Linked DNA regions of Homo sapiens: all the other regions are linked to region 1. Evidence: fine-mapped expression QTL. A gene starts in region 1. Each other region holds a variant in brackets. All regions are shown on one strand. Distances are from middle to middle. Region 1 holds the start of FBXO38 (F-box protein 38). Region 2 overlaps FBXO38 (F-box protein 38). Region 3 has its middle 16 kb from the start of SPINK6.

Region 1 (10,394 bases):
TAAGTGTTCAAGTGAAAGGAAGAGTTGAGCATCTCTCACTTTAAATCAAAACCAAGAAATGACTAACCTTAGTGAGGAAGTCATGTTGAAAGCCAAGACAGACCAGAAGCTAGGCTTCTTGTGCCAAACATTAGCTAAGTTGTGAACACAAATAAAAAGTTCTTGAGAAAATTGTTACTCCAGTGAATAAACAAATGATAAGAAAGCAAGACAGCCTATTGCTGATATACACAAAGTCTGAGTTTTATGGACAGAAGTTCAAACCAGCCACATTCCCTAAGCCAAAGACTAATCCAGAGCAAGGCCCTAAGTCTCTGCAATTCTATGAAGGCCGAGAGAGGTGAGGAAGTTTTAGAAGAAAAGTTGAAAGCTAGCAGAGGGTGGTTCATGAGTTTATGGAAAGACGTTGTCTCCATAGCGGAAAAGCACAAGGTGAAGCAGCAAATGTTGATGGAGAAGCTGCAACAAGTTATCCAAAAGATCTAACTTAGATAACGGCTGAAAGTAGCTACACTACACAACAGATTTTCAGTACGTACAGCCTTCCATTGGAATAATATTCCATATCAGATTTTCACTGCTAGGGAGAAGTAAATGCCTAGCTTCAAAGGGCAGGCTGATTATCTTGTTAGAGAATGCAGCTGGTGACATGAAGTTGCAGCCAATGCTCACTAACCATTCTGAAAATCCTAGGGCCCTTCAGAATGATGCTAAATCTACTCTGCCTGTGCTCTATAAAAGGAACAACAAAGCCTGAAAGACAGCACATCTGTTTACAGTATAGTATACTAAATAAGACTTCTACTAAGATCTACTGCTCAGAAAAGTTTCCTTTTAAAATATTACTGTTCATTGACAATGGACCTAGTCATTCAAGAGGTCCATTAGATACACAAGGAGATTAATATTGTTTCCATGCCTGCTAACACAATATCCATTCTGCAGCTAATAGATCAACTAGATCAAGAACTTTCAACTTTCAAGTCATATTATTTAAGAAACAAATTTCCTGGCTGGACCCGGTGGCTCACACCTGTAATCCCAGCACTTTGGGAGGCCGAGGCAGGCAGATCACAAGGTCAGGAGCTCGAGACCAGTCTGGCCAACATAGTGAAACCCCATCTCTACTGAAAATACAAAAATTAGCTGGGTGTGGTGGCATGTGCCTGTAATCCCAGCCACCTGGGAGGCTGAGGCAGGAGAATTGCTTGAACCAGGGTGTCAGAGGTTGCAGTGAGCCAAGATCGTACGACTGCACTCGAGCCTGGTAACAGAGCTAGACTCCATCTCAAAAAAAAAAAAAAAAAAAAGAAATAAATTCCCTAAGGCTATAGCTGCCATAGACTGTGATTCCTCTGATGGATATGGGCAAACTAAATTCAAAACCTTCTGGAAAGGATACACATTCTAGAAGCTGTTAAGAACGTCTGTGATTCATGGGAGGAGGTCAAAATATCAACATTAACAAGAGTTTGGAATCCAGTCCTCATGGATGACTCTGAGGGATTCAAGACTTCTGTGGTTATAGGAGGAGCAGGATTGAAATAATAAACAACAAAAGACATCAGTGGAGGAAGTCGCTGCAGATGTGGAGGAAATAGCAAGAGAACTACAATCGGATGTAGAGCCTGAAGATGTGACTGAATTGCTGCAATCTCATGATAAAACTTGAACAGATGAGAAGTTGCTTCTTATAGATGAACAAAGAAAGTGGTTTGTTGAGATGAAATCTACTTCTGGTGAAGATGCTGTGAACATTATTGAAATGACAACAAAGGATTTAGAATACTACATAAACTCAGTTGATACGGCAGCACCAGGGTTTGAGAGAACTGAATGTAATTTTGAAAGAAGTTCTACTGTGAGTAAAATGCTATCATACATCGCATGTTACAACAAAATATTTCCTAGAAGGAAGAGCCAATCAATGAGGCAAACTTCACTGTTGTCCTAAGAAACTGCCAAGCCACCCCAATGTTCTGCAACCACCACCCTGATCAGTCAGCAGCCACCAAGACAGAGACAAGATCTTCCATTAACAAAAATATTATGACTCGCTGAAGGCTCAGATTAATTGTTAGCATTTTTTTTAAATTAAGTACTTTAAAATTATGGCGTATACATTACTTTAGATATAATGCTGTTGCACACTTGATAGATTATACTACATTGTAAAATATAACTTCTATATACACAGGGAAACCAAAAACTTTGTGACTTGCTTTATTGCAGTAGTCTGGAACCAAACCTGCAGTATCTCTGAGCTATGCCTGAATAAATAAGGAGGAGAGTATTATATATAAAGACTATACTTTGCGGTACCAGGTGTTACCTATAGGCTTAGCAACTTCTAGACCCTAAGACTCTGAACCTTAAGGAAATGTCAGAAATGACAGAATTACAGAATCCCAGAATGTTAAAAGTTGAAGAGGACCAGAGACACTACCTAATCACACAGTTCTCAATTTTTTGTGGGTCACAAACCCATCTGAGAATACGATGAAAGTGGCACATCCGTTTTCCAGACTCATGCAAGCAGAAATACATACACGATTTCAGGGGGTTCATATTCACAGACATCGAAGCTCATCTAGTGATCCCAAATTTTTAAGATGAACAAACAGAACCAGAGAGGATAAGGTGACAAATCACTTGCCCAAGATTAAATAGTGTCAAGGTTCAGGCTGGGATACAGACTTCCCAGGTTACAGTAAACATTCTATCATCAAGTCAGTCCTCTGTCACTGTGGTTGTCTTCCTGCATTCCAGAGCAATGCCCTAGTGCTTGGAGAAAGGCTTCTAGATGCTCTGATAGAACTGCATCTGACCACACCCTACCTTCACCAATTAGGATTTATGGTCCATTTAATTTAGGCTCCCATGCAGTGGTCTATGGCCACCTTTGGTATATTACAGTCACTCTGTGGCTGCCTGCTTAGCTGACCTTAGCCACAGGAAGCATTACTTTTGTCTTGGTGTTGCAAGCACATTCTTAAACCAGAGTTGTTTCCAAAAAGTGTTCTCCTATCTCGTCAATTCAAATCTCCTTCCCATCCCAAACTCAAATTACTTTTCTTTACCCTCGTGAAAAATACCCCCTCTCACTTGAAACTTCCCTATATTCTCAATGATCCTATCTGGTCAAGGGCTTCCCTGCCCTTCAAGTTTCTCATGCCTTTCTTTAGTTTCTATTGGTTTCAGCTTGCTCATATCAAAGTAATCTTGCATATCACTTAATTTGACCTCACAGACCTTAATTGACATCATAGACTATCTTGTGTATCTACTGACCAGGACAGCCTCTCTTGTCTAAAGAAATACCACACCACATAAACCAAACTGCTCAGATAAAAACCACACACAAACAAAACAAAACAAAAACCCCCCAACAGGATGATGGTGCTGAAAAAGGCCTAGGAATCATCCAGCTCAACCCTTCGTTTTACAGATAAGGAAAGTGAGGCCTAGAGATGTTAGATGGCTTGTCCAAAGTCACAGAGGCAGGATGTACCAGTGTGAAGCAGGGATACAGGTCTTCAACTCCTTTTTAATTTTATTTCACTATACCACCTTATTTCATTTTAGTATACCACCAATTTTACTTCACTATATCACCCTATCTTACTGGAATCTAGTTGTCCCTTTTTCTCCTCTGCTATGCATTAGTATCTGTTTGACTAAATATAAAGTGTGTACCTCTGGGCACACAGCCATTTAAACAAAGAGGCACACAAAACTCTACATTCTTTACCCAAGGAGGACATCAGAATTACAGCATCACATATTTTAAAGAGGGGAAAGAAGGCTTACAGATAATCTAAAATGTTAATTCTCAAAATGAAAGTTAAAAATTACAAGCGGATTTTTTTCAGTCTATGCCTATGTAATACATACCCTCCAGACTGGACCTCCTCCTTCCCTGGGAAAATCATGGCTTTATAGAACTATTATTTTATCCTTCACTTGTGCTGGGGGAATGGGAAAGGGGATTAAAAACCAGTGACCTAATCCAACGTCTTCCTTTAGCAGATAAAAAAATCTCAAGTTCAGAGAGAGGAAGGGATTTGGCCAAAGTAAACCATCAAGTTAATAGCAACTTTGGAACAAAAATCAAGGTCTCCTGTTTTTCACTTTGTAGTGATTTACACTGCTGGTTTAGGTGTATAAAACAAAGTTTTCTGGACAGAGCTTCTCATTGCACAGGAACCTTCCTAAGTGACCAGTTGCCCTTGGCCAGCTTGGTGTCTGCAAAGAAACACGGTAGACATCTCTTAGTCAAATTCTGGGTGTGCAGAGTGCAGGGAGAATATGCTTTTCAGGTCTGTAAAGACTCCATGAAAAGGGAGTTAAGAATCTGATTTCCACAGCTAGGGCACGGACATCAAAGGCATCCAACACAGATAAGCAAACTGCAGCACAGAAAAGCTAATGGACCTAGACAAGGTCACACGGTGTGTAGGTGGAAGGGGTGAAACTAGAATTCAGGGCTCCTGATACTCAGGCGTGGCAGCCAAAGATGTGTTCACTGCTTCCTGCTCAGGGACATCTCCTCACTACGCTGAACACAGACCTCCTTCACTTTACTGGCCGAAACACCGACTTAACATTAAAATCATGAAATTCGTGACGCCCGGGGTGGGAGACAGTCACAGAAGCTGTCCAGTCCAACACCCTCACCCATTTCATTGAGGAAACTGGGGCCCAGAGAGAGTTCTTTATGCTGGATTTTGGGGCCAGGTTCAGACAAGCAGGCAACCCCCGCAAGCACGGCCTAGAAGGCCAGGAACTACAAATTCAACCCCTGATCTCTCAAGGAGCTCTAGGCCCCAAGGGGGCCAGAGGCCGAGCTTAAGCGGTCGGAAGTTCCAGAATCCCCACCCAGCTACCTCAGCCCTGCCGCACGCACTCCGGGCTTTGCCACCCCGCTCCCGGTCCCCAGGCCCACTCAGCCGCCGCCTCACCTACGCCGACCCTCCGCCTGTTATTGTGGTTGAGAGGGAGGGACGCTACAGACACTTCCCCGGCCCCTACCGCTGAGGCACTTCCGCTTCCGCCGCCGCTCGCATATTTCCGGAGTGTTGTCATCCGGGGCTGGAGCCTCAAACCCGTGTCCATATTGTGTGTGTGAAGAAGCATCGAAGCGCGGCAGCCATGTTCAGCGTGGCATTTCGGAAGGCTTGTCAGGGGTGGAGAAGCGGGGCGGGTTGCTGTTCTTTCACCTGACACTAAAGCGCCATGCCGGAAGCACTGAGTCTGATACGTCGGAACCAGTCTCCACCGTGTGGTTTGGTCTTGATTTCCACTGGTACTCTGGGGTCTTGGATAAGTCTCTGGACCTCGCCTTTGTCATTTGCGAAGTCGATAGGTTCCAATAGAGATTTTCCCAGAATCATTCAACTAAAAATAGAGAACTTTTTTTTTTTGAGAGGAAGGACGGGGGCGCAGTTAAAGATGTTAATGTTAAGTCATCCCTTCTGTGATTTCGGGACATTATCTTTGCACGTAAGTAATAGTATTTTACAGTCCAAAGGAATTTCACATGAGTGTCATTAAAAACTCTACACGACTCTGACATGTAGGCAAGGATCAACTTAATCACCTTTTCTGTTGTTTAATGGATAAGGAATTGTCTTCAGAGAGTGTAATTGATTTTCACAATGTCTCGCAGATGGACTGAAATTCAGATTTTTACCTTTTACATCCTGTGTTCTTGCCCTAATATACATGTAATTAATATGGGCTAAAATCCCTAGATTTAAATAGATACAAATACTTCTTAGGAAAGTTAGTGTGCATTAAAGCCATGTGAGACACAATTTGACAAGACGTAGCATTGACTAGGCTATTCTGCTGGAGAAGAAAAAGCTGAAGAAGGCTTGGGAATCCCATTTCTTCTTATTCTTTTCTTGATTGATAGCAGACCTACTGGTTTTTCCCCTCTTTCCCCAATATGGTTCGGCACCTTAGGTTTCAGCTTGTCTTAGGCAGTCACAGTTTTAGCTATCCCATTCCGTATGTCAAACCATATATCTGTGTTTTTATTTGGAGCTCTGGTAGGACAAACAAAACAAAACCTCATCATATTCATGTACTATTCATTGTAATCTCAGCTTTCATGTTACATTCTTCCTGTAATTGAAGACAAAAATGAATTTTTATGCTATTTGCTTCTGTCGGTTTCTTCATATTCAAACTTTAATAAAGGAAACAGACTTTAGCTTTTTCTGTTTCCCAGGTTATTCTGAAGAATAAATAGGAATTACGAAAGTTTCTAGTGCAGGGCATGGCATATTTAGAAGGCATTCAGTAAGATTTATTTCAGCACAATTGGCCTGAATTTTTAATTCAATGGAATATGATTTTCATTTTATTAGCATTCCTCCTTTTGTAAAAAGCACTGTAGTGGGACCTGAAATGAATACTCATGAGTAAGAAAGGTTTCCTACCTCAAGTTTAGAAAATTTCCTACCACAAATCATTGTAATAAATGTTAAAGATATTTTCTCACTGCTATGAGTGTTATATATAATAAGATATCAAAACTAGTTTTAACATTTTCAGGTAGAGCATGTTATATGTATCCCTTCATCTCTAGGATTTATTTGTACCTTGATGTTACAGGTTTTCATTAAAAAGGTCCTGAGTTAGTATTTCTCCTGTACAGTGGCACCATCATGGGGTCCCTGAGCGCTGCAGGAAAGTTTGCCCTACAGTAAATGACCTTAAACCGCTGTGTTGTTTTAATTTTCAATCCCCACTTTTTAATTAAATTCTAAAGTATCTCTTTTCATTCTTCCATGAGTTCTAGTATCAGCCCGTGTTCTTCCTTGAAATTCCTTAGGTACCTAAACAACAGATAATCCCTTTGTTAAAATGATGACTAATACTCAAGAGAAGTTTTGGTCAGGGATAGTGGTTGGAGTTTGCTCAGGACAGGTTCATATGGCTATGGAGCCTGTTCAGTGCACAACTGCAGAAGGTGCTATGCATATCAAGGCTATTCTTAACTACCCTTAGACTTGGCGTATATGGCAGAACTCCACTATGAATTCAAATACAGGATTTTTTTTGAAGGTAAAAAGGAAAAAAAAAAACTATTGTAGCTGTTTTGACTGAGAAGTTGTGTATTTAGTAGTCAGCAATGCAGGCTTTAGAACCAGAAAGACTTGGTTAACTGTGAGTTCCTCTGCTTACTGGCAGAGAGACAATGGGCAATCACTTCAGCTCTAAGGTTCAGGTTTCTTTAAAATAGACATTATGGTACCTACGTAACAAGTCACTCCAGAATTTAGTGGCTAAAAATTTTATCTGCCCTGATTCTGTAGGGTAACTGGGTTAGGCTGGGCAGTCCTAGCTTGCAGTCTCTGGCATTTACAGTCAGATATCAAACTGGGGCTGTAGTTAATGTCAGCCTCTAATAGATGTTATATTGATGGCAGTTGAGGCTGGCTGATCTCTAGATGCTCAGTTGGAGCTATTTATCAGAGTGCCTACACTTGGGCTTTCCCTCTGATTTGGGTTTCTTATACCGTGGTGTTTGGGTTTTGACAGGGAGCACTTGGAGGTAGAATGGGAAAAAAGGGAGCTGTTCCAAGCAAAACAGGAGGAAGCTACAAAACTTCATATAATGTAGCCTCTGCAGTCCCAGGAGTGACTTCCATCACGTCGTGTTAGGTCAAAAAAGCCACTAAGCCAGCCCAGATTCAAGAGAAGAATAAGAGTCCACCTCTTAATTGAAGATGTAGCAAAGACTTTGTGGCCATCTGTAATTTACCACACTACCTCATTGTTTTTAATTTTTAGATTTTTGGATGTATGAATATTAGCACAAGCATCAAAAAGTAAGGCTTGTAGTCCCTCCAGCCCAGTCTTGCATTTGTGCATGAATAATGTCATACATTATTTTTTAAGAAAAATTGTGGCAAAATATATATATTTGTCATTTTAACCTCTTTAAGTATACAGTTCAGTGGAATTATGCACATTCACATTATTGTGCAAACACCACCGCCGCCAATCATCATAACTTTTCTATCTTCCCAAACTGAAACTCTTTAAACAACAATTCCCTATGCTCTCCTTCCCCCAGTCCCTGGCAGCCACCATTCTACTTTTTGACTCTATGATTTTGACCACTCTAGGTACTCATATAAGTGGAATCATAACAATATTTGTCATTTTATGTCTGAATTTTTTCACTTAGCATAATATCTTCAGGGTTCATCCATGTTGTAGCATGTATTTAGAATTTAATTCCTTTTTAAATCTGAATAATGTTCCACTGCATATATATTTCACATTTTGTTTATCAATTCATTCTTTATGTTATTTATTTGTTGTTTATTTTTCATTGTGATTAAAAACACATAACATAAAATTTACCATTTTAGTTATGTATTTCCATTCATTTTTAGTTTTTAGTTAATGCATAATAATTGTACATATTCATGGGATACAGAGTGATATTTCAATACATGTATACAATCTATAATGATCAAAGCAGGCTAATTAGCATATCCATTCACCGCAAACATTTATCATCTTTGTGTTGCAAACATTCAAAATCCTCTCTTTTAGCTTCTTGAAAATATACAATAAACTATCATTAACTGTATTCACCCTACCATTAACAGATGAATGAATAAAGAAAATGTGGAACATATACACAAAATATGTATACAAAAGGATGAAATCCTGTCATTGGAGGCAATATGGATGAACCTGGAGGACATTATGTTAAGTGAAATAACTCAGGCACAGAAAGATAAACACTGTATGTTTTCACTCATATGTGGGAGCTAAAAAAATTTTTGAGCCCATTTTTAAGTGTACAGTTCAGTAGTATCAACCATATTCACGTTGTTCAGCAGATCTCTAGAACTTTTTCATTGCGAGACTGATACTCTATGTCCATTGAACAAGAGCTCTCCATTTTCTCCTACCCTAGCTCTGGAAACCACAGTTTTACATCCTGTTTCTGAGTTTGACTACATTAAATACCTCATAGAAGTAGCTTCACACACTTTGTCTTTTTGTGACTGACTTATTTCACTTAGTATGAAGTCCTCAAGGTTTTAAGGCTGAATAATATTCCATTGCCTGTATATATCACATTTTCTATTCATCCATCAATGGGCATTTGGGTTACTTCCACATTTTGGTTATTATGAATAATGCTGGAATAAACATGAGAGTGTAAATATCTTATTGAGATCTTGTTTTCATCTTTTGGCATATAGATGCAGAAGTGGGATTGTTGAATCATAGGATAATTCTATTTTTAATTTTTTGAGGAGCCACCATACTCTTCCATAGCAGTTACACTGTTTTACATTCTCATCAACAGTGTACAAAGGTTCCAATTTCTCCACATCCTCACCCTCATTTGTTTCTTGTGAGGTAATGTTTGTAATCCAGATAGAACAGTGCTTGGCAGGCAGCAAACACTCTATAAATGTTAGCTGTTATTATTTGATTGTTCAGAGACCTCTTTTCCTTCCTGCTTCTCAGCTATTTCTAGATAGTTGAAGTGATAAGGGCTGAATTCTTAGCATATGATATTTCTGAAGTTTACTTTCAAAGTGCCCTAATTTTTCCCAAGTTACATAAGAAAATTCTGTGAAAGGCTGTTGTATGTAGGTGTATACATAGAGAATTGCAATTTCAAAACCAACACATGGTGGTAGATTAAGAGAAAACAAAAACAAAAGCCTGCATTGAAGACTTTTACACTTCCATAAGCATGAACTCTGAGTGACCATTAAACAATATTAAAAATTAAGGACACTGCAGTTCATTTTTAATTTGTGCTATACTGCACAAGATCATGTTTATGTGACAAGGAAGTGAAAAGGTTAAGAGTGAAAAAGCAAATTCAGTAAACTTCTTTTTAAAAAATTACCCTTCAGTGTTATGGTTTGAATGTGTTCCCCAAAGTTCATGTGTTGCAAACTCATATGGTTGGGGTCTGTGTCCCCACCAAAATCTCATGTTGAATTGTAATTCTCAGTGTTGGAGGAGGGGCATGGTGGGAGGTGATTGGATCATGGGGGCAGACTTCCTGCTTTCTGTTCTTACGAAAGTGAGTGGGTTCTTATGCGATTTGATTCTTTTAAAGCATGTATCACTTCCTCCTTTGCTTGCTCTCTCCTGCAGGCCATGTGAAGATGTGCTTGCTTCCTTGTCACCTTCCGCCATGATTGTAAGTTTCCTGAGGCCTCCCAGGAAGCAGAAGCCTGTACAGCCCACAGAACCATGACCTGATGAAATCTCTTTTCTTTATAAATTACCCAGTCTCAGGTATGTCTTTATGGCTGTGTGAGAATGGACTAATACAGAAACTTAATGTCTAATGCAATCGTGTTGAGAGGTGGAACTTTTAAAAGATGATTAGG
Region 2 (10,394 bases), 26 kb before region 1:
TATAAATCATTTTTAAATGCTACACATATATATGCTGCAATATGCATAATTTGTCCAGAAAAATATACAAAAAACTGTTGATGATGGTTACCTTTGAGAAGAGGAGAGTTTTCATTTTGTACCTTTCTGTACTGTTTGAAATTTATCAAGTGCATGTATTACTTATTTTTTTAAGTGTTAACAGGAATTCTGAGTGATGGGATTATAGGCCATTTTTTGTTTTCTTCTTTATACTCTTCTGTATTTAAGAAAACAAACAAACCAAAAACCCAATAAATGTTATTTTTTTAAAGTCATCTACGCCTGCTACATCCTAAAGTTCATATTTCCCAATAACTTCTTGGTTCAGCAGGGCCAGGGATAGAATTTAACTGCTGCTGGCACATGAGACATGACTATATTAACGAGTGATCTCAGCAGAGGTCCCAGAGCCCTAAAATAGGCCTGGATAGTAGCTTTGTGAGGAGATACAGATCCCGGTCAAGTGACTCAATAGCAGAGGAGGCTGTTCTGTAGGTGTCAGTGAGAGGCTTTGTCACAAGTACAACTTTTTCAGGCTCTCAATTTATTTAATGGTTTGTAAATTTCGGTATCTAAGAAGGGCCTTTAAGAAAACAGATGACATTACTCTGAGAGGAAAATGAACTCCCACCATAAGGGAAAAATATCAAGTGCAAAAGTCACACTTCTACATATAGGAGATTGGAGGGGGAGATCTGAAATAGACTGGGATTTCTAGTCAATAGAAATTTTTATCTCAGGTTAATGTCACTTAATTAAAGTTCAACATACATACCTACTTTGTCCTTTCAGATGATGTGCTATTGTGAAGATAATTCTGAGAAAATAACTACAATATCCTAAGTCCTAGGTAACAATGAACTAACCTTAATTTTATGTTCCTAGCCCAAAGAAGTACATATAAAAATCAGGGCACTTGAATCCACAACCTGGAGAGTATACACTTCTAGGCAGAGAACGTCAGAAGTTTAAAGAGGCATTGAATATACTTCCAACTTGGTTATCAAAGGTTACCAGAACTTGTATGAACAATCCAAATGAAATACCTACATTTTACATTAGGAATGCAATCATATCACACATAGAAAACATGGAAAGTTGTATTATTTCAGTATCAATAAAACATAGCTGTATTTTTAAGTCTGTAATACCTGAGATCCAATTGTATGGGTTGTGTAGATGAGGGCAATTGTAAATTGCCAGATATTTGATACAGGAAAAAACTTCATTGACTGCTTTCATCCCTATATCAGTGATGATACCAGGATTTTCTACCACATCAGCCAAACCATACTTCACCAGATCCGCATTAGCCATTCTGCCTAAAAAGAGCAATCAATTAAAAAAAAAAAAAGTCAAATTCTTAAGTGTTAGGGAGTGTTACCAACTTTGTATCTTACCAGTCAGTATAAAAAGTCTCTACCATCATTCTGTATCATCTGCTTATCATTGGGTTCAGGTATAATTTTAGGTTAGGTATTCCGTACATATGGTAGCACTTCTTGTACAAAATAATAAATTATATTAAAAGTCAAGGGACAGCTAGTAGGAAAAATTATTTCCAATTGTTTAGAGAAGAGAAAAGGCAAAAATTCTTAAAGCATAAGTGAAGGATCTATCATACTGGTTCATACCATGGTAAAGTTTTAGCTTTATCATTTAAAAGGAAAACAAAATCTTAAAAACTCAACTCCCTTACAATAAAATGATGTTCTTGGAGCCCAGTGTGGACATGTGTAGAGAAAGGTAAACTCTGAGAATTTAAGATTCATTGTTAGAACCCATGGCACTGGTTAGTAACATCTATCTATACCCTAAAAGTGCACTTCTAACTCAAACACATGCCACTGGGCTTTAGTGCCTACTCTCTGGTCACAAACTAGGGGTTTGGGAATAAGTAAAGGAGGATCCTTTATTCTAGATCATGTCACTAAGAATCACACCTCATCCCTTGCCTCTTATCATTTCTCCCATCTGCCTGCCCCCTCACGCTCCAAGATTCTGTTAGTTCATAGTTACATCTTTAGTGTCTAGCATAGTGCTGGGGATACAAGAGCTCATGGGAATACGTCTCTCACAGTCTGCAATCAACCAATATGCAGGACAAAAAAAAAACACTGCCACTCTGGTGAAGCTGCCCTGAATATCACAGGGATTTACAACTTTAGCTACAACATGTTAAAAACAATCCATCTTCTCCAAACTTCCAATTTTACTTTCCATATAGTTGACAGTCTTTCTCCTATAGTTCCTATATTTGGTATCTCCTGGCACATCTTACAAATTTCACCTTAATCCATCCTTTACAATTTAGCTGAACTATTTTCTTTAGCTCCTGGTAAGGATCATTTCCCTGCTCTTAGGACTTCAGATGAAACTTACCATTTTCCTTAAGATAGGGTAAACCTTGAACTGACCCTGTTTCCTGGGCACTATCTGAATAAATGCTGTAACCTAACATGACAAATCGATGTCTTGCATTTAGTTTTTTGAGATGAACACCATGTTTCTACTCTTGGGGCTTCCTGCTTGACACACTCCTTTCAAAATCCTGATGATATTACTTGAGATTCATTTTTGTTTTTCTTTTCAGCCCACAGGTGAGCTAAAGGTAAAAGTTATCATTTATTGAATACTTCCTAAGTGTCAGAGATTACTGTAAATGTATACATCACTTTTCCCTTGGTTCCTCAGAGCTACCCAAGAGAAAAGCAGGATACCACCTTATCTTCATTTAAAAAATGAGAATTAACTTGCTTAGGTCTCATGATTAGTAGCAGACAGGCCTCAATTCTCTCTCTCCCTCAAGCTCTAGGACTAAATTGCTAGAACTCTAGGGCTAGGACTATATTGTTTCTGAAATTTTCACTGAGTTATACGTCTCTATCAGTATTATATAAAGCTTACAGATCATAAATCCACATGAACAAAGAACTCTCTAAAGATTCATCTTTGGGTCACTGTCAGAAGACAAAGGTGATGTTTCTATTTATTTATTCTGCCAGACCTTTTATAACAAGAAAGTGACTCAAGTTTTACCAGAGGCCAGCCACCACTTCTTGGAGAGATGCTTCAAATCTAAATTACTGAGAAGAGAGAAACTAAGTGAGAGAGTGTGAGTGAGCAGTGACCTCATGATATCGTCCATAACAAGTACCAGGCACCTATTCTGAAACAGAGAATCCTAGGTCATCTTTGGAGGGACAGAAGATAGTATGCATATGGAAGAAATGGTTAAACTGTGGCAAATAAGAAAATGAATGTACAAAGTTCAACATAACAGACTATTAAGTATGAAACAGAACATGAAACAAGTTGTGTTGAAAACTACGAGATAATGGTAGTCAAGAAGGTATTTTTATGCTATTGAAAACATATGTTGAGGAGAAAGAAACACTACAGGAAAATAATTGGTTATGAAGTTAACACTTGAAGACAATTCTTCAGTAGACCTAAATTTGGCCATCCTGAAGGTACACAATTTGTCAAGTTCTGAGCTTTTGGGAAAAATAGAAAACAAAATTATAGAAAGAATATCAATTTCAAAGCTAATAATTTTGTTACTATACAGACATTGCAGAAACATAGGGAATGTTAGATACTTCATTCAAAACCAGAAAAGCTTGATATCAAATGTATTAATTTTATATAAAATCATTGTACTCATTAGCATTTTAAAGCTATTTTGGAGAAAAGCTGATCTTTTTCAAAGCTATACAGATTTAACATGATTCTAATAGTAAACTGTCTAGAAAAGGATGGCTTGACTTTTTAAAGTAATCACCTATATTAATGAGTACTGTGAAAAACAAAAAAGTAAACAAACAAAAAACCCACAACTATTATTGTAATATATATTAGAAATGAAAAACAGTCATGTTTTTTGAGCTGGATTGTCCTGAATGGAAGAATTAAGCCTTCTTATGTTCTTCTATAATACAAACTAGATCCAAAGAAAAAATGTTATCTGCTATGAGGATGAGAGTTCAAGAAAGACTTGTTGCAAATCAGGTGGGAAGAAAATGAATTCTTGAATAAATAAAAGCATGTTGGTGATGAAAATTTTCTTTCATATCTTATTGATGCCATATGGAAAAATAGTTTGAGTAATGAATTGACATGCATTCAAACCCAAAGAAATGAGTTCTCAATTGTAAATGGGTAAGAAAATGCTGTGAACAAGCTTTCCAACAGCAATCATCATTAAATGAATACTGACCATTATGTGCTCACACTATCTGGAAAATCCAGAACCCCCAGCGGGCTTATTATGGAAATGAAGAGCATGGGCAGGGAATGGGACCTCATCTGAGAGGACCATCAAAAGCTTCAAGAAGTGTGGCAGATCAAATTCAACAATGGAACCAAGGATGACATTCTGTGAAAAAAATGAAGCAGAATGGGAAAGAAACTTGGGCAGTAAAGTGGAGACAATATCAAATGTAGATAAGGTTCTTTTTCTGGTGTATTGTTAGTAACTATATTTTCTATAATATGCTAAAATCAGAGGCAATATGGAAAAAAAAATCACTGACATTTCTAATTTAAAAGTTTATTTTTCAAGACGTGAGAGCACCTAAGATTTTAAGTTGTCTTATGTTCAAAAAGACATGGCACAACCCAATTCAGATTTCAGTTTGTCAAGTAAATTTCTTACAGTAATTCTAGGAATTAAAATGGGATAAATCTTACTCTGTAGCAAAAACTCATCTACATATCCTAGATGAAGGGTTTCAAACTGGGGAAACTCCAACTCTGCCATCTTTAGGGCAGAAAAGACACCATCTTTGGTTAGGGAAGGCTGGATCCGAACTTCATGTAACCTGTGAATAAAGACAGAGAACATATCAGAGTAAAACAAAAACCATCAGAATCAAAGATTCCTCCTAATATAAGTGTATTAGTCCGTTTCTATGCTGCTGACAAAGACGTACCTGAGACTGGGAAGAAAAAGAGGTTTTAATGGACTCACAGTTCCACATGGCTGGGGAGGCCTCACGAACATGGCTGAAGGCAAAAAGGAGCAAGTCACATCTTGACTGATGGCAGCAAGTCACATTTTTGCCTGATGGCAGCAGGCAAAAAAAGAGAGGCTGTGCAGGGACACTCCCATTTTTAAAACCATTGGATCTAGTGAGACTTATTCACTATCATGAGGACAGCATGGGAAAGACCACCCCCATGATTCAGTCATCTCCCACTGGGTCCCTCTCACAACACATGGGAATTATGGGAGCTGCAAGATGAGATCTGAGGAGAAACAGAGCCAAACCATATCAGTAAGACTCTGAAAGAAGTT[C/T]ATGACTTTAGTGAAGTGTCACAGATGTCAACAACTTCCCTCCCACTTCCTCCATTGAAAAAAAAAATATTTTCTTCAAAGGAGTATCTGCAAAGTGTAAGGAAATCTTAAGCAGTACACTGAAGCTATACATTAAATAACAATTAATTACAGGTAAGAATCTTATATCCTTTCAAGTGCTTTACTAAACCTGAAGAGTCAATGTGAGAATCTGCATCTGGTGCTGGTATTTGACATTTTGCTTAGGCTAGCTATTAATGTTGCATTTTAACAAAGAGTATAATTCTGTAGTAGGTAACAATACCTACCTAAACTTAGAAACACTTTTATTTATAATCCTAATCAAGTCTCTTGATGGAAAAAGCTTTGTTTCTGAATAAATTTTAAAAATGCTTAAAGAAAATATTATAAAATAAAAGTGGAGGTAGACCATTGATATGTAAGAAATAGTAAATGTGGCATAAAGTGATATAACCACTTGGTTAAAAAATATAGAGGTGTTACAAGGTCAGACTTTGGAAAAGCTGATTTAAAACACTGATTTCTGAATAGCAAATATTATCACCAAGTAACTAGAACAATTCAGAAAATCATCCAGAGATGGAGACAATGGTCCTGAGAGGGCTACAGACACCAGAGCTTCAATGCTAACTTCTATTGGACTCTCAGCCATTTCCAGAAATTCCACTGCTTTTCTCTGATATGAGACCATGCCACTCTGGAGCTTGCTAGTATGCAGCTCAACTGGTTACCAGTTATAACATTAAGACTACCATGATGTTATACTTATCTGTTATTTGGACTTCTTCGTATTTTAAATTTGAACAAGGCTTGATCAAATGTACACACATATATACACACACATTCCACAATTTTTTGTAAAATAGGGAAAAACATAATTACTTCTAAAGTGAGAGACACAATACAAAGAGGAAACATACCTACGGGCAGCAGTAATGATGAGGTAACCAAGATCTACTTCAAGAGCATTTTTGCAAGCTCCCAGAACAATAGTGTGCAAATTTCTAAAACCACCTAAAGACGAGGAACAAAAACAAGTGTTTGACCATAGCATTTTTAGTGAAGTATTTATATACTATACATTATAAAGTATTATCTGAGATGATAATTACTGATTTAAAAGTAAATCTAAGCTTTGTTTTTGCATTGAAATTAATATCTTAAGATGAATTATAACTACTGGTGACCTAAAAGGAAATGAAAGCAGACCCTCATTTTGCAAAGACACTGATGGCATCTGAAAACTACTCTAAAAGATTTACATTGTTAAGTAAGGATTTTTAGAAAGTCAGAAGCTGATGAGAGAATTGTAAAAAAAGAAACCCTGCCATTTCTGGCCAAATTTCGAACCTCCAAATATCATATGGAACAAGACCAGAACCACTTTAACTGATTTTTTTAATGTTTCTGAAACTTGTATTTACCTACAAAAAAGAACATAAATTACTAATATATAGCTTAAAGAAATGACTGATTTATCTGTTTTAAATTTGTATAAATAAAATCACAAAGTTTGTATACTTTTGTGTCTGGCTTCTTTTACTAAACACTCTGTTTATGAGATTCATCCATATCGCTGTGTAGCTGTAGTCTGTTCACTTATTACTGTACAGTATTTTGCTATATGAATATGCCACAATTTAATTATCCATTCTATTGCCAATAGGCATCTTTCCATTTTGGGATGATTAGAAACAGTGCTTCTATGAACAATCTTAAAAATGTCTTTTGGTGAACATATGTAAACATTTCTGTTGGGTTTAAAGCCAGGAATGCAACTGTTGCTATGTGTATGACCAACTTTAGTAGATACTACCAAACAGTATTTCAAAGTGGTTGTATGAATTTATATTCTGACCATCAGTGTATGAAAGGTCCTGTTGCTTCACATCCTAGCCAACATTACTGTTTTTATCTTTTTCATATTAGTCACGAGTAGGCATAGTCATTTTAGTGCTTGAATATCACACTGTAGTTTCAATTTGCATTTCCCTAACGATTAGTAAACTTTTATCGTTTTTTCATGTTTATTGGCTTCTTGTGTGCAAACTTTTCTATTCAAGTCTTCTCCCATTTTTTCTATTGAGTTGCCTGCCTTTTTCTTATTCATTCCAGGAGTCCTTTATATCTTCCCAATACCCAGTATCTGTATTGCAAACAGCTTCTCCCATTCTGTAGCTTGGTTTTTCACTCTCTCTCTCTCTTTTTTTTTTGAGACAGAGTCTCACTCTCTCACCCAGGCTGGAGTGCAGTGGTGCGATCTAGGCTCACTGCATGCTCTGCCTCCCAGGTTCACGCCATTCTCCTGCCTCAGCCTCCCGAGTAGCTGGGACTACAGGTGCCCGCCACCACGACGGGCTAATTTTTTGTATTTTTAAGTAGAGACGGGGTTTCACCACGTTAGCCAGGATGGTCTCGATCTGCTGACCTCATGATCCGCCCGCCTCGGCCTCCCAAAGTGCTGGGATTACAGGCGTGGGCCACTGCGCCCGGCCGGTTTTTCACTCTCTCAATCATGCCTTTTGATGGACAAAAAAAAAAAAATTTTAATTTTAATTTGGTACAATTTATCAATATTTTCTTTATGGTAAATGCTTTTTGGTGTCCTGTTTAAGATGTCTTTGTGTACTCAAGGTCAACAAGACATTCTTCTAAGTTATTTTTTTAAATTTCATTTCAAAATTGTTCTCATCTGAATCTATGACCCATCTAGAATAAATTTTTGTGTGAGGTATGTTGACTTCTTGAGTAAAATACAAGGCAGGGTCACCCTTAAAAACTGATTAGAGAAGAAAAGTCTCTGTTTTTCTTTTAGGACCTTTATACAAACTCAGCTTTTAGCACCTCTCTACAGGTCTTCTCTCTAGTGAATACACCAGTAGCCTTCTTTTCGTTTTTGACTTTTATCTTGTTAACTATCGCCATCAATCAAAATACTGTTGGTTTTAAGGGGTTGTTTCATCCCACTGGCTAAATGTAATAAAGTACACTTATACCACACTTGACTGACAAAATGTCTAGAAATGTAGTGTTTACTCTTCATTATATTTCAACAGTATTAACTATAATGTCTGTTTGTTAACAATGGTACTTGATGACTTTCCATTTTATTTTAGAGAGCCAAAGTTAAGTTTTTGGTTTCCAACTATTAATCATCCATTTTGCTAAACCACTATTTTTTTTCTGCAATGAGATGTTTAACACAAAGCACATTCTGTTACGTATTATTTATCTATAGTTAAGTATACACAGAACAACTTTTTTCTTTTAAATATCATCATCTGATGGGTAAATCAATATCCAAGTAATATGTATAAAAGTATTTTTTATATTATAAAGTATTATGTGATAGAGATTAACATTATTAATGCCTAAATTTTTTTTGGAAGCCTCGGCTGTACAAGTTGTAAAACATCACCAAAGAACGCTAGAAATCCCTGTTAACATTTCTAAGAAAGATTCCATACATAAGAGGAGGTATTATTAGCTACATAAAAGTCAAAACAAGCCAGAAAACATGTCTTATCACTCTACTGTCTATTTTAAGAAAGTTTAATGTGCACCAAAAGAAAATGAATACTAGCTATGCTCATGGTTACTTACTGTCCATCAAATACAACAAAGAAAGCAGTTACTGACGAGCATTTTCTTTTTAAAGACTTGCCAGGGAAGTTAAATAAAAGCTTAATGATTATTTTAAGTTGATTTTTAAAAAATATTTAGTAATTAAAGAAAATGAATACCTGATCTCCAACTGTCTTCAACAACATGTTGGATAAGACCTCCAAGGAAAGGAACTCGAACCATTTCTAAGTGTTCCAAGTTTCGGGCAGAGGCTAAGCCTGTTACTAAAGGGACATATTTCAAGGAATTTGTGGGTCCTGGAAAAAAAAAAAAATCTTTGATAGAACAATGTAAAGTGCCTTAAAATGAATTTCAAATCAGTGAAAGACATGTATAACTTATAAACTCTAAGTCTTAAAATGACAGCCAAATTGGCTCTCTGAAATCAGGTTCTTGTTACAAATGAAAGTGTTAGCCTATTAACCATACACTTACTCAGCATAAAGGTTTTTCAGTAACACTGTAGAGATATGTAGTATTCCGTAAATTCTCTAAAGGCTCAATAGTTTTGAACTCAAACTAACTAATGGGAAAAAGTCAAGATAAAAATTTGATCCTTCACTCAAGTAAACAGCTCAATCATTTAATCATCTCTATGACCAGTGTTGCATTAGCTACTATAGAAGATCACAAAAGATATGGTCCTGTCCATCAAAAAACCTGCAGTTGACATGGAGCTAGAACTAACATAAGTAATTATAGAAGGATAAGAAGGCAGACTGCATCAAGTGTAAAAATAAGATCTGCCATACTCCATGAAAAAGAAAAAGAAAGAGGAGAAAAGTAAGTTGGAAAAGGCAGAACCTGAAGAACGCATACAAAAACAGAGGAAGAAAGTGCACATCTCAGGATAACGAAACAATAATACAGCATAAGAGAAGACATTGAGATGGAAAGCTGTATGGCTGACCAGGGAACAATGAATAGTCAAATGTGATGATAAAAGAAGATATATCTTGGAAAGGTGTCAGAATAAGGTTATCAAGAGGGGTCCTGGTTATCATGACCTTAAGCAGAGTAGTTCCCACTTAATGCTCTAGTGCAGCGGTGTCCAATATTTTGACATCACTGGGCCACACTGGAAGAGGAAAAATTGCCTTGGGCCACATTGGAAGAGGAAAAATTGTCTTGATATTAAAGATAGCTGATGAGCAGGAAAGAAAAAGAAGAAGAAGAAGAAAAAGCCTATGCATAAATCTCATAATGTTTTAAGAAAGTTTAAGAATTTGTATTGGGCATCATGTGGGCTGTGGCCAGTGGACCGTGGGTTGAACAAGCTTGCTCTAGGGCAACAGGGACACTAAAGATTTCTGTTTAGAAGGATAATACCATAAAAGCTATGTTTAAGGGAGATTAAGGAAGCCAACTATTTACATGCAGAATGATTCGGAGACCAGAAACAAAGTAAGAAGACTGAAATTTAATAAAA
Region 3 (10,394 bases), 200 kb after region 1:
TCCTTTCATTTCTGGCTCTTCCATTTTCAATACATGGCTCAAATTTGCCCTGCTCATTTGCATCAAAGTGGTGAGAAGAATAAAATATTGTGATTCTTTAAAGGTGGCTTAAAAGTGGAATACAACATTTTTGTTCATTGTTGCTGAGAATTAGGCATATAGTAACACCATATGCAAAAAGGACAGAGAAATAGATTCCCTTATTAGACTTCCAATTCCCAGAAATGTTCTATATTATAGTTTTGTAGTATGAGTTTTGTAGACAATTAGGCCCCGTGACCAATAAAAAACTGTGCACACCCTTTTGTCCACATGTGGGATATACCCTGCCCCTCAAAGGAGACCAAGTAAAGTCTTATCCAGTCATTGCAACCACCAGAAAGTTCAAGGTTTCTAAAAGTAGCTCTTTATGGAGACTTATCAACTCCTCACCCCTCCCCCATGATTTTTATACAGTAGAGGAATATGAACAGGATAATCATAATTTAAACTCTCATTAAAAAAAAGTGTAATGAGATACATATAGATGTCATTGGCACATAGCACTGATAAAAATTGCTTACTTGGAAGGGTAGAGACACCCTGGGCTGGCAGTGGCATATAGCTTTTGATAAGACTCTGATTCTGTTATTGAAAATAATGCCCTTGTCAGTTGTTCTTGGTCGTTTCTGGCTGTGCCCTCTGATAGGCTCTTGCATTTCTACCAAAAACCAAACTGAGATAAAGTTAGAAAACCACATTTACTTTTTGGGGCTGTACTACCTTCAAAGGCTACTTGTTTATGGTCATTTTCTGGGTCTTGAAAATTTATTGAAGGTCATAGTTTCTTTAATCTTGGCTTATTGTTTATCTGACAATATAAATCCCTCAACATTTAGAGGGTTCCTTAACTGTTTGTTTAATTTTTTTCCATACACCAGTAACTATTTTAAAAGTGTCCTAAGTTCTTTCTAGCCACAATTCTGAAGCTTACCTTTTTTTTTCTTTATTCTTTTACCTCTGTTTCTAAATTTAATGGCAGATAGTTTGTGGCCATCTGAAACTATAAGCTTAGGTGAGAAGTCAACAGTCTTAATATGATCATGGCAACAAACCTGAAAACCTTTTTTAAACTCAGAAAATACATATGGTTTTTGTTACTAAAAGCATTTCTTACTTTTGGGTGTCTAGAAGAAAATAGCTTTTAAATTTCCTTTACGGCATCACATTTCTTAGTATTCTCTACATTTCCTTTAATTTCTAATTACAAGTCTCCAAATACCTGCCTAAGTTCTTTTTCTTATCCTATCATGTAAAATAAGAAAATAAAAGCCAAAATACACTTTCACTCTGACTCTTTCCAATCTTTTCCTCTAGAATGACAGGCTTAGGCAGCACGTGATCTGACTTTTAATTTATCACAGTGTGGCAATTTTAAAACTGTCTCAAAACTGATTATATTCCTTTCATTGAGAAGTGAGGTCTATAGTTAATGCCCCTGAATCTGGGTGGGCTTAGGATTGTGTTAGTCACTAGACTGTGTCAAAAGGGAGGGTAGATCATACAAAGCCACAGAGGATGCACCTGGCTGTCTGGGAACCCCTGCTGTCAGGATGCTCCCTCTTGGTATGCACCTTTCTGGACTGTAGCCACCATGCTATGGTGGATTATTTCCATCCATGTATATTCTTTGATGAAATGTCTACTTCAAATCTTTTATACATGATAACATTCATTTATATTTGGTTAAGTTTAAAGAGCATTATACAAATTCTTCTTTATCAAATATGTGCTTTGAAAGTACCTTCTCCACCCTGTAACTTGTTTTTTTCGATTAGAGTTTTTTTGAAAAACAGAAGTTTTCAATTTTGATGAAGTCTGATTTACAAAATATTCTTTAATGGATGATGTTTTTCGTGTCATATCTAATAATTTTACCTACTCTAAAATCATAATTTTTAAAGTTATATAGTTTTGATTTTAGTTCAGGGATCCATTTTAAATTAATGTTTTTATAATTGATGTTCATTGTTTTTGTCTATGTACATTCAATTGTTTTTGCAGCATTTGTTGAAAAGCATTTTTTTCCACTGAATTGTCTTTAGATCTTTTTATAAAATCATTTTTATATGTATATAGATCTATTTTTGGACCTTCTATTCTGATCTTTTGATCAATTTTTCTATCTTGACTCCAATGATATACTGTCTTGATATCTATAGCTTTATAATTAGTCCTGAAAAATGGTAATGTTAGTTTTAATGCTGTTCTCCATTTCAAAGTTGTTTTGACTATGCTAGGACTTTTAGATTTCCATATGAATTTTAGAATAATCTTGTCAATTTCTGCATAAAACATTGCTAGAATTTTAGTAAGAATTGCATTGAACATATAAATCAATTTGGAGGAGAAATGATATTTAGCAAAAATGATTTTTTTGACCCATGAAAAAGGCATATCTTTCTATTTATTTAAGTTTCCTTTAATTTACCTCACAATGCTTTTTTAAAAATTTTAATGTATAGGACATTTACAAGCTCAACAGATTTCATATTTTGATGCTGTTAGAATTATTTTCATTTAAATTTCTGATTGCTCTTAGTTTATAGAAATACAATTTGTTTCGAAAGTAGAATGGTGGTTACAAGAGGCTGGTGGAGGCAGTTAGGTGGGGAAAGGGAACATGATCAAAGTTTCAGTAAGAGAGGAGGAATAAGCTTTAGTGAGCTATTGCACAAAACAGTGACTATAATAACTTATAATGCATTGCATATTCCAGAATTTCTAAAAGATTAGATTTTTTGTTTCACAACAAAAAAATAAGTATGTGAGATGATGGATTTGTTAATTTGCGTGATTTAATCATTCCATAATGTAAACATCATATACCCTATAAATACATATATTGTCATTGTCGATTAAAAATAAAACTGTAAAATGAAGTACAATGTATTTTGTATTTTGTTGCCATATCCTCTAATGTATTTTGTTATTATATCTTCCAACCTGGCTAAACTCACTTGTTAGATCTAGTATCCTTTTTTGTGGATTGCATCACATTTCCTACAGAGACCATCATTTCATCTTCAAATAAAGAAAATTGCAGTATTATTTCTTACTTTCCCATCTGAAAGTTTTGTTCTGTTCTTTCTTTTTTTTTCTCTCTCTCTTGTCTTATTGTGCTGGCTAAAACCTCCAGCAAAATATTGAAAAGAAGTAGTGAGAGTGGAAATCTTCATCTTGTACTTGTTTAAAGGGGGAAAACATTTGAGTTTTCATAATTATGATGTTTGCCACAAGTTTTCTATAGCTGCCCTTTATCACGTTAATAAAATTCCCTTCCATATGTAATTTGCAGGGAGTTATTGCTGTTGTTGTTTGCTTTAACAAGAAATTGATGTTGAATTTTAGTCAAATATGTTTTTGTTTTTCACTAGTAATCACATGGTTTTTCTTTTCTAGTTTGCCAATACCTTGAGTTATATTGGTTGAATTTTAAATGTCAATCAACATTGCATTTCTGCCTGAGCCCCAATTGCTCATTATTAATTGTCCTTGTTATATATTGTTGGATTCTATTTGCTAAAATTTTGTTTAGGACATTCCTCTCTGTTCATGAGGGACATTTATCTGCAGTAGTTGCTTTTCTTATTTATTCTTTTAATGTCTTTTTTTATTTGTTAGTAGGTTAATGGCAACTTCATAGAATAATTTAGTAAGTGTTCTCTTTTCGTTAATATTATATGTGAATGTGTATAGAATCAGTATTTTTTTATTTAAATTTTTGGTAGAATTAACCAGTGATGGCACCAGAGCCAATGAGTTTCTTATCAGAGATTTTTATCTAGAAATTCAATTAATTTAAGAGATGTAGGACTATATAAATTAATTCCTTCTTGAGTGAATTTTGGTAGTTTATGTCTTTAAATGAATTCTTCCACTTCAACTAAATTAACAAAATAGTTGATATAATTTTTTTCATAATGTTTCCTTATTATTATTTTAATTTATATAAGAACTCTAGAGTTGTTACCTCTGTCATTCTTATTGGTGATTTGTGTCTTCTGTCTTTTTTTTTCTGATTGGTCACTTCACGTTTATCAGTTTTATCAATCTCAAAGAACTACCTTTTGGTTTCATTGATCTGTTTCTACTGCTTTTCTGTTTTCTATTTAATTGTTTTCCCCCTTTGTGATTTATGATTTCTTTTTTATGCTTATCTTGTTAAGATTTCCTCATTTTTTCCAGTTTCTCACAATGTAACTTGAGATTATCGATTTCAGATCTTCCTTCTTTCAATAAAAGAAAATGTTCAGGGTTAGTCTTTGGTAGGGACATGGAGACCTCTTCCACAGTAACAGAGAAGAGTACAGTATGGATGCTGATGTGCTGGTGGGAACCTGTTGTAGATCTTTTGGAATTGCTTCTATATTCTCAGTCACAAAGGAAGCTTTCTTATCTGAGAATGAGGATGCTAAAGGAAATAAATTTAATGTTCTTTGGTTTGTATTCAGCTTTACTTCCTATTAATATTGACAACTTTCACTTTTTTCATTTAATTGTTATATTTTTCACATATTTTGTATGTTTTTTTAATTTTTAAATTGGTTTTTGTAATGTGGTTTTTAATACCTTTTCATCTTCTTGTACAAGGAGACATTATAGTACGAAGTTTATTGTAATGATTGCTGTTTGAATTATGCCATTTTACTATTAAAGTTTTTAAAAAGCAGATTCAGTGCTCTACTTGTCACAGGCTAAAGATTTGAGCTTTAATATCTCAGACAAGAGTTGTAACTCAAACCTCAGATCATATTGCAGAACACAAGAATACTTGAGGAAAAGTAAGCAAAGTAGAAAAACTGATTTTTAAAATCTTTTTCTCTATAAAATAAGCTATTCCTCAACTTCTTTACATGAGTATGCCACTTTAAAAAGTGCATTTACTGTGCTATCTCATTTTGAATATCACAATTCTGTGAGGTGCTTATTAGGTACAAGCTTATTTTACCCACGAGTAAACCAATGCTTAGCAAGATTAAATGAATTCTCCCAAGTTGTACAGAAAGTGAGCTGAAGAACTGGATCAGAATGCTGATTCCTCTTATTGTGCAATATCTGGCTCATGATATTAGATATAGATAATATACCTATAGCTAATATAGATATTAGACAGTACTATTTCCTAGAATCAGTCCAAAAGCACCCAACTGACACAATATCAGCTCGCCTAGAATTTACATTCTTAT[G/A]TTGAAGACAAAAGAAGTAGTCACTTAACCATATAATTATAAATGTCTTAGGTAGGAGAAGTAGAGAGTCCTGGGAAAGAGTGTAATGACTTCTCCCCTTAGTCAAGGGCCATTCTGTAAGAGTCAGTTTCACAGAAAGAAAGCCACAAACTTCTGCTTGACTGCTTAGGATGCAACTTTGCAATATGGGCATTTCCTCTCCTAACACTTAGTCATAATGCTAACAAGTCATAGTTTCCCTTGGAACACTGACGAAGGAGGAGATTGAGTAATCATAGAAGCTAAGTTATTATTATGCAAAAAAGTATACCTTTGACATATTTATATTTTCTTAATAGTCTTATGTGTCCCTTTTTCTCATTGCCAGAAAATGTTCAGCCAACTGAAGAAACTGAGCAAGGCCCCCACCACCACCACTACAACACACATATTCTTTTATTATTACTTGTAGTCATACAGGAATTTGCTCAAAAAGAAAAGTTAAGAAGGGTCATTTCATTATTCTAAGGTATATACATTTTTCGTTTTATGGTCCCAGTTTTTCCTAAAATTCATTATATCCAAAACTAAATTTCTTATGATCTCTACTGAATCTGCATCTCTTCCATGTCTCTTTACTTAATGAATGTGACATTGGAAGGGATATACTTCACCTCAGAGTTATATTAGGTTTATATGTCTATATTATCCAGTCATTAAAATGGCATAATCTTCTTTAGTACAGGTTGAGCGTGCATAATATGAAAAATCTGAAATGCAAAATGATCTAAAATCTGGAGCTTTTTGAGCCCCAACATGGAGCTCAAAAGAAAATGCTCATTGGAGCATTTCAGATCACAGATTTTTGGATTAAGGATGCTCAACCACTGGGTTTTCTGAAAATATTCCCAAATCCAAAAAACTAAACCCAAATTCCCAAACACTTCTCATCCCAAATATTTCATATAAGGTACACTGAACCAGAAATATTTTTAAGTAAGAAGAAATCATAAATCATTGTTTGCCGAAGCCTGATTTCAAAGGTCTTACACAAATAGTATGGATGTCTATTAGATCACAAAATGTGGAAAATCTTGAATATACCCATTTTTGTTTGATTTTTGTGTATGGTCTAAGATAAGGGTTCAACCTTATTCTTTTCATGAGGAAATCCGGTTTTTCCAGCCCTATCTACTAAAGAGATTATCCTTTCCCTCTCCTGACCTTTTGATTCTCAGCTTCCTATTTGGCTCCATTGAAATGTTTCTGTTTTTAAGCCTGTTCTACACACTCTTTTGATCACTATAGCCTTTTAACATAACTTTAAATAAGAAAGTGTTACACCTCTTTATTTTTCTTTCTCAGAATTACTTTGACGATTCGATGACTTTCGTGGTTCCAGACAAATTTTAGGACTTTTTTTTCTATTTCTGTGAAGAATTTCATTGGAATTTTTATAGAAACTGTGTTAATTCTGTATATTGTTTTGGGTATTACAAACATTTTAACAATATTCTAATCCATGAGCAAGGGGTATCTTTTTATTTATTTGTGTCTTCACTTTTTTTCATCAATGTTTTGTAGTTTACAGTGTATAATCTTTCACATTTTTGCTTAAATTTCTTGCTAAGTATTTTTTATGCTTTTGAAAATGGGATTGTTCTCTTCATTTATTTTTCATATAGGTTATGATTTGTGTACAGATATGCAATTAATTTTTGTATGTCAATTTTGTATCTAGTAATTTTACTAAATTCATTGATTCGTTCTAACTGCTTTTTTGTGGAGTATTTGGGGTTTTCTACATTTAGAATCTTGTCATTTGCCATTAGAAATAACTTTACTTTTTTATTTTTTGATTTGTATGCCTTTTTCTTTTTTGTTCTAGTCTGATTACTCTTTGTAGTATTTCCAGTACTGTAATATGTTTGAACCAAAGTGACGAGAGTGGGCATCCTTGCCTGGTACTGGATCCTAGAGGAAAAGCTTAGTTATTCCCCATTGATTATAACGTTAGCTGTGGTTTTCTCAAAGATGGTTTTTAGTATGTGGAGGAACTTTCCTTCTATACCTAAACTATAGAGAGCTTTGAATCAATAAATAATGTTCAACTTTGTGAAATGCTTTTGCTGCATCAATTGAGATGGTAAAGAAGTTTTTATCTTCTATTCTGTTAATGTGACGTGTTACAGTGATTGATTTGTGTATGGTAAACCAGGCTTGCTTGCCAAGGATAAATCCCACTTGGTCATAATGTACTTTTTTTTTTTTTTTTGAGACGGAGTCTCTCTCTGTCGCCAGGCGGAGTGCAGTGGCACGATCTCGGTTCACTGCAACCTCCGCCTCCTGGGTTCAGGCGATTCTCCTGCCTCAGCCTCCCAAGTAGCTGGGATTACAGGCGCCTGCCACTGCACCCTGCTACTTTTCTTAGTTTTAGTAGAGACGGCGTTTCACCATGTTGGCCACGTTGGTCTCGATCTCTTGACCTCGTGATCTGCCAGCCTCGGCCTCCCAAAGTGCTGGGATTACAGGCGTGAGCCACCACGCCATGTTGTTGAATCCCTTTTGACAATATTTTATTGAGAATTTTTGAATCAATGTTCGTCAGAGAATCGCTTGTCATTTTTTTTTATTGTGGTATCTTTGACTTTGGTATATCGAGCTGGTGATACCAGGACTCATATAATGAGTTTGGGAGTATTTCCTTAGTTCTATTTTAGGAAAAATTTAAGAAAGATTAGTATTAATTCTGCCTTAATATGTGGTAAAATTTAGCTACAAAGCCATCTTGTCCTGAGCTTTTCTTCATTGGGAGGTTTTAATTACCACTTCAGTCTCCTTATTTGTTATTGAACTTTTCAGACTTTCTACTTTTTCTGACTCAATCTTTGTAGGCTGTATTTTCTAAGAAATTATTTTCTCTATTGTCCCTTATTATCCATTCTATTTTTGAGGGATCTATTGTAATACCTTCCAAGTATAAGGCCTGAAACCCCAAAGTTCTTAGAAGAAAACATAGAGGAAAAGCTCTTTAACGTTGGCCTTGGCAATGATTTTTTGGATATCATACCAAAAGGAAAAAGAAAAAATTGATACAAGTTGGGCTACCTCAAACTAAAAAGCTTCTTCACAGCAAAGGAAACAATAAACAAAATGAATAAGAACCTACATATTCAGAGAAAGTATTTGTAAACCATATATCTGATAAAAAATTAATATCCAAAATATATAAAGGGGCCACGTGCATTGGCTCCTGCCTATAATCTTAACAGTTTTGGAGGCTGAGGCAGGCAGATCGCTTGAGCCCAGGGGTTCTAGCCAGCCTGGGCAACATGGTGAGATCCCGTCTCTACAAAATATACAAAAATTAGCAGGCTGTGGTAGCATACGCCTGTAGTCCCTACTACCTGGGAGGCTGAGGTAGGAGGATCACCTGAGCCCAAGCAGGTGGAGGCTGCAATGAGCCATGATTGTGTCACTGCACTGCACTTCAGCCTGGGAGCCTGGGTGACAGAGTGAGATCCCATCTCAAATATATATGTGTGTGTGTGTGTGTGTGTGTGTGTGTGTGTGTGTGTGTGTGTGTATATATATATATATATATATATGTATGTATTTGTGCATATATCTATATATATAGTCAAAAATACAAGAAGTAACAAGTTTTGGCAAGGGTATGGAGAAAAGGGAGCCCTGAAACATTGTTGATGGGACTGTAGATTAATAGGTCATTGTGGAAAACTGTACCGGAGTTCCAAAAGAAATTAAAAATAGAACTACCATGTAACCCAGCAGTCCCTCTTCTGAGTATATATCCAAAAAGGAAGAAATCATGACCTTGTAAAGATATCTGCACTTTCATGTTCATTGCAACCTTATTCACAATAGCCAAGATATGTGAAGAACCTAAGTGTTCATTGATGGATGACTGGATTAAAATCACTGTGGCACACGTATGAATGTATAGAATATTATTCAGCCCTTAAAACAAATGAAGTCTTGCCATTTGCCACAAAATGAATGAGTCTGGAGGACATTATGCTAAGTGAAATAAGCCAGACCCAAAAATAAAAGTATTGCCTGATCTCATTTATATGTGAAACTCAAAATAATTCAAATACACAGAAATAGAGAACAAAACAGTGTTTATCAGGGGTAAGTTTGGTGTGGAAGGGTATGAAAATACAGAGATGTAGGTCAAAATATTTTAAAAAATAGCCCATATGTAGGATAAATAAGTCTAGAGATCTAATATACAACATGAGAACTACGGGTAATAAAATTACCCATTACTACATTGGGATTCATGCTAAATTAGTAGATTTTAGCTATTATTGCCACACACACACACAAATGTTTACACATAATACACACATACACACATAAAATGAAAACAAAGTTACCATAGAACAAAAATCATTTTATTTGTTGAAATTAAATGAAAACTTTTGGAAATGAAAAACTGAAATTGTCTCTGTGTGTGGACGGTATGATCTCGTATATAGAAAACCCTAAAGATGCCACAAAGAAAACTACTAGAAAAGATAAACAAATTTAGTAGAGTGGCAGCATACAAAATCAACATATAAAAATTAGTATTTATAAACGAATAATGAACTATCCAAAAAAATTTTTTAATCCCATCCACAATAGCAACCAAAAAAGAAAACACTTAGGTGTAAATTTAATCAAGGAGGTGAAAGATTTATATACAAAAAAACTATAAAACAGTGACGAAACAAATTGAAGAAAAAATAGAGAAATATCTGTGTTCATGGATTGGAAGAATTAATATTGTGAAAATGTTTATACAACCCAGAATGATCTAAACATTCAATATAAAAATTCCAGTCTTTTTATATAGAAACAGAGAAAACAACTCTTAAACTCGTATGGAGCCACAAAAGACCGTGAAAAGCCAAAGTATACTGAGCAAAAAGAATGAAGCTGGAGGCATCATACTACCTGACTTCAAGATATATTATAAAGCTATTTTATGCCAGCACCATGCTATAAAGACAGCATGGAACTGGCATAAAAACAGATACATCAACCAATGGAACAGAATAGACAGATCAAAAATAAACCCACACATTTTTATCTAATTGATTTTTGAAATAAAATTTAAAAACATACAATGGAGAAAGGAAAAGGAGAGTCTCTTCAATAAATGGTGCTGGGAAAATG

The links. PIP is the estimated chance that this variant, and not a neighbour inherited with it, causes the effect.
Region 2: its variant is fine-mapped to the expression of FBXO38 in whole blood (TOPMed, PIP above 0.99).
Region 3: its variant is fine-mapped to the expression of FBXO38 in whole blood (TOPMed, PIP 0.98).

The regions. Positions count from the first base shown.
Region 1 is chr5:148,378,607-148,389,000 of GRCh38, reverse strand. It overlaps FBXO38 (F-box protein 38), which reads right to left and starts at 5,043. Exons shown (of 22, transcript NM_205836.3): 1 at 4,962-5,043. It overlaps FBXO38-DT (FBXO38 divergent transcript), which reads left to right and starts at 5,151. Exons shown (of 5, transcript NR_105057.1): 1 at 5,151-5,502; 2 at 10,156-10,299. RefSeq lists an enhancer at 5,067-5,266.
Region 2 is chr5:148,405,085-148,415,478 of GRCh38, reverse strand. FBXO38 (F-box protein 38) reads right to left here. Exons shown (of 22, transcript NM_205836.3): 7 at 9,085-9,222; 8 at 6,262-6,355; 9 at 4,714-4,844; 10 at 1,173-1,343. Among named protein-coding and RNA genes, the nearest start is that of FBXO38, 26 kb to the right of the region's middle. The variant C/T (reference allele first, on the strand shown) is at 5,321.
Region 3 is chr5:148,181,467-148,191,860 of GRCh38, reverse strand. No RefSeq gene overlaps it. Among named protein-coding and RNA genes, the nearest start is that of SPINK6, 16 kb to the left of the region's middle. The variant G/A (reference allele first, on the strand shown) is at 5,229.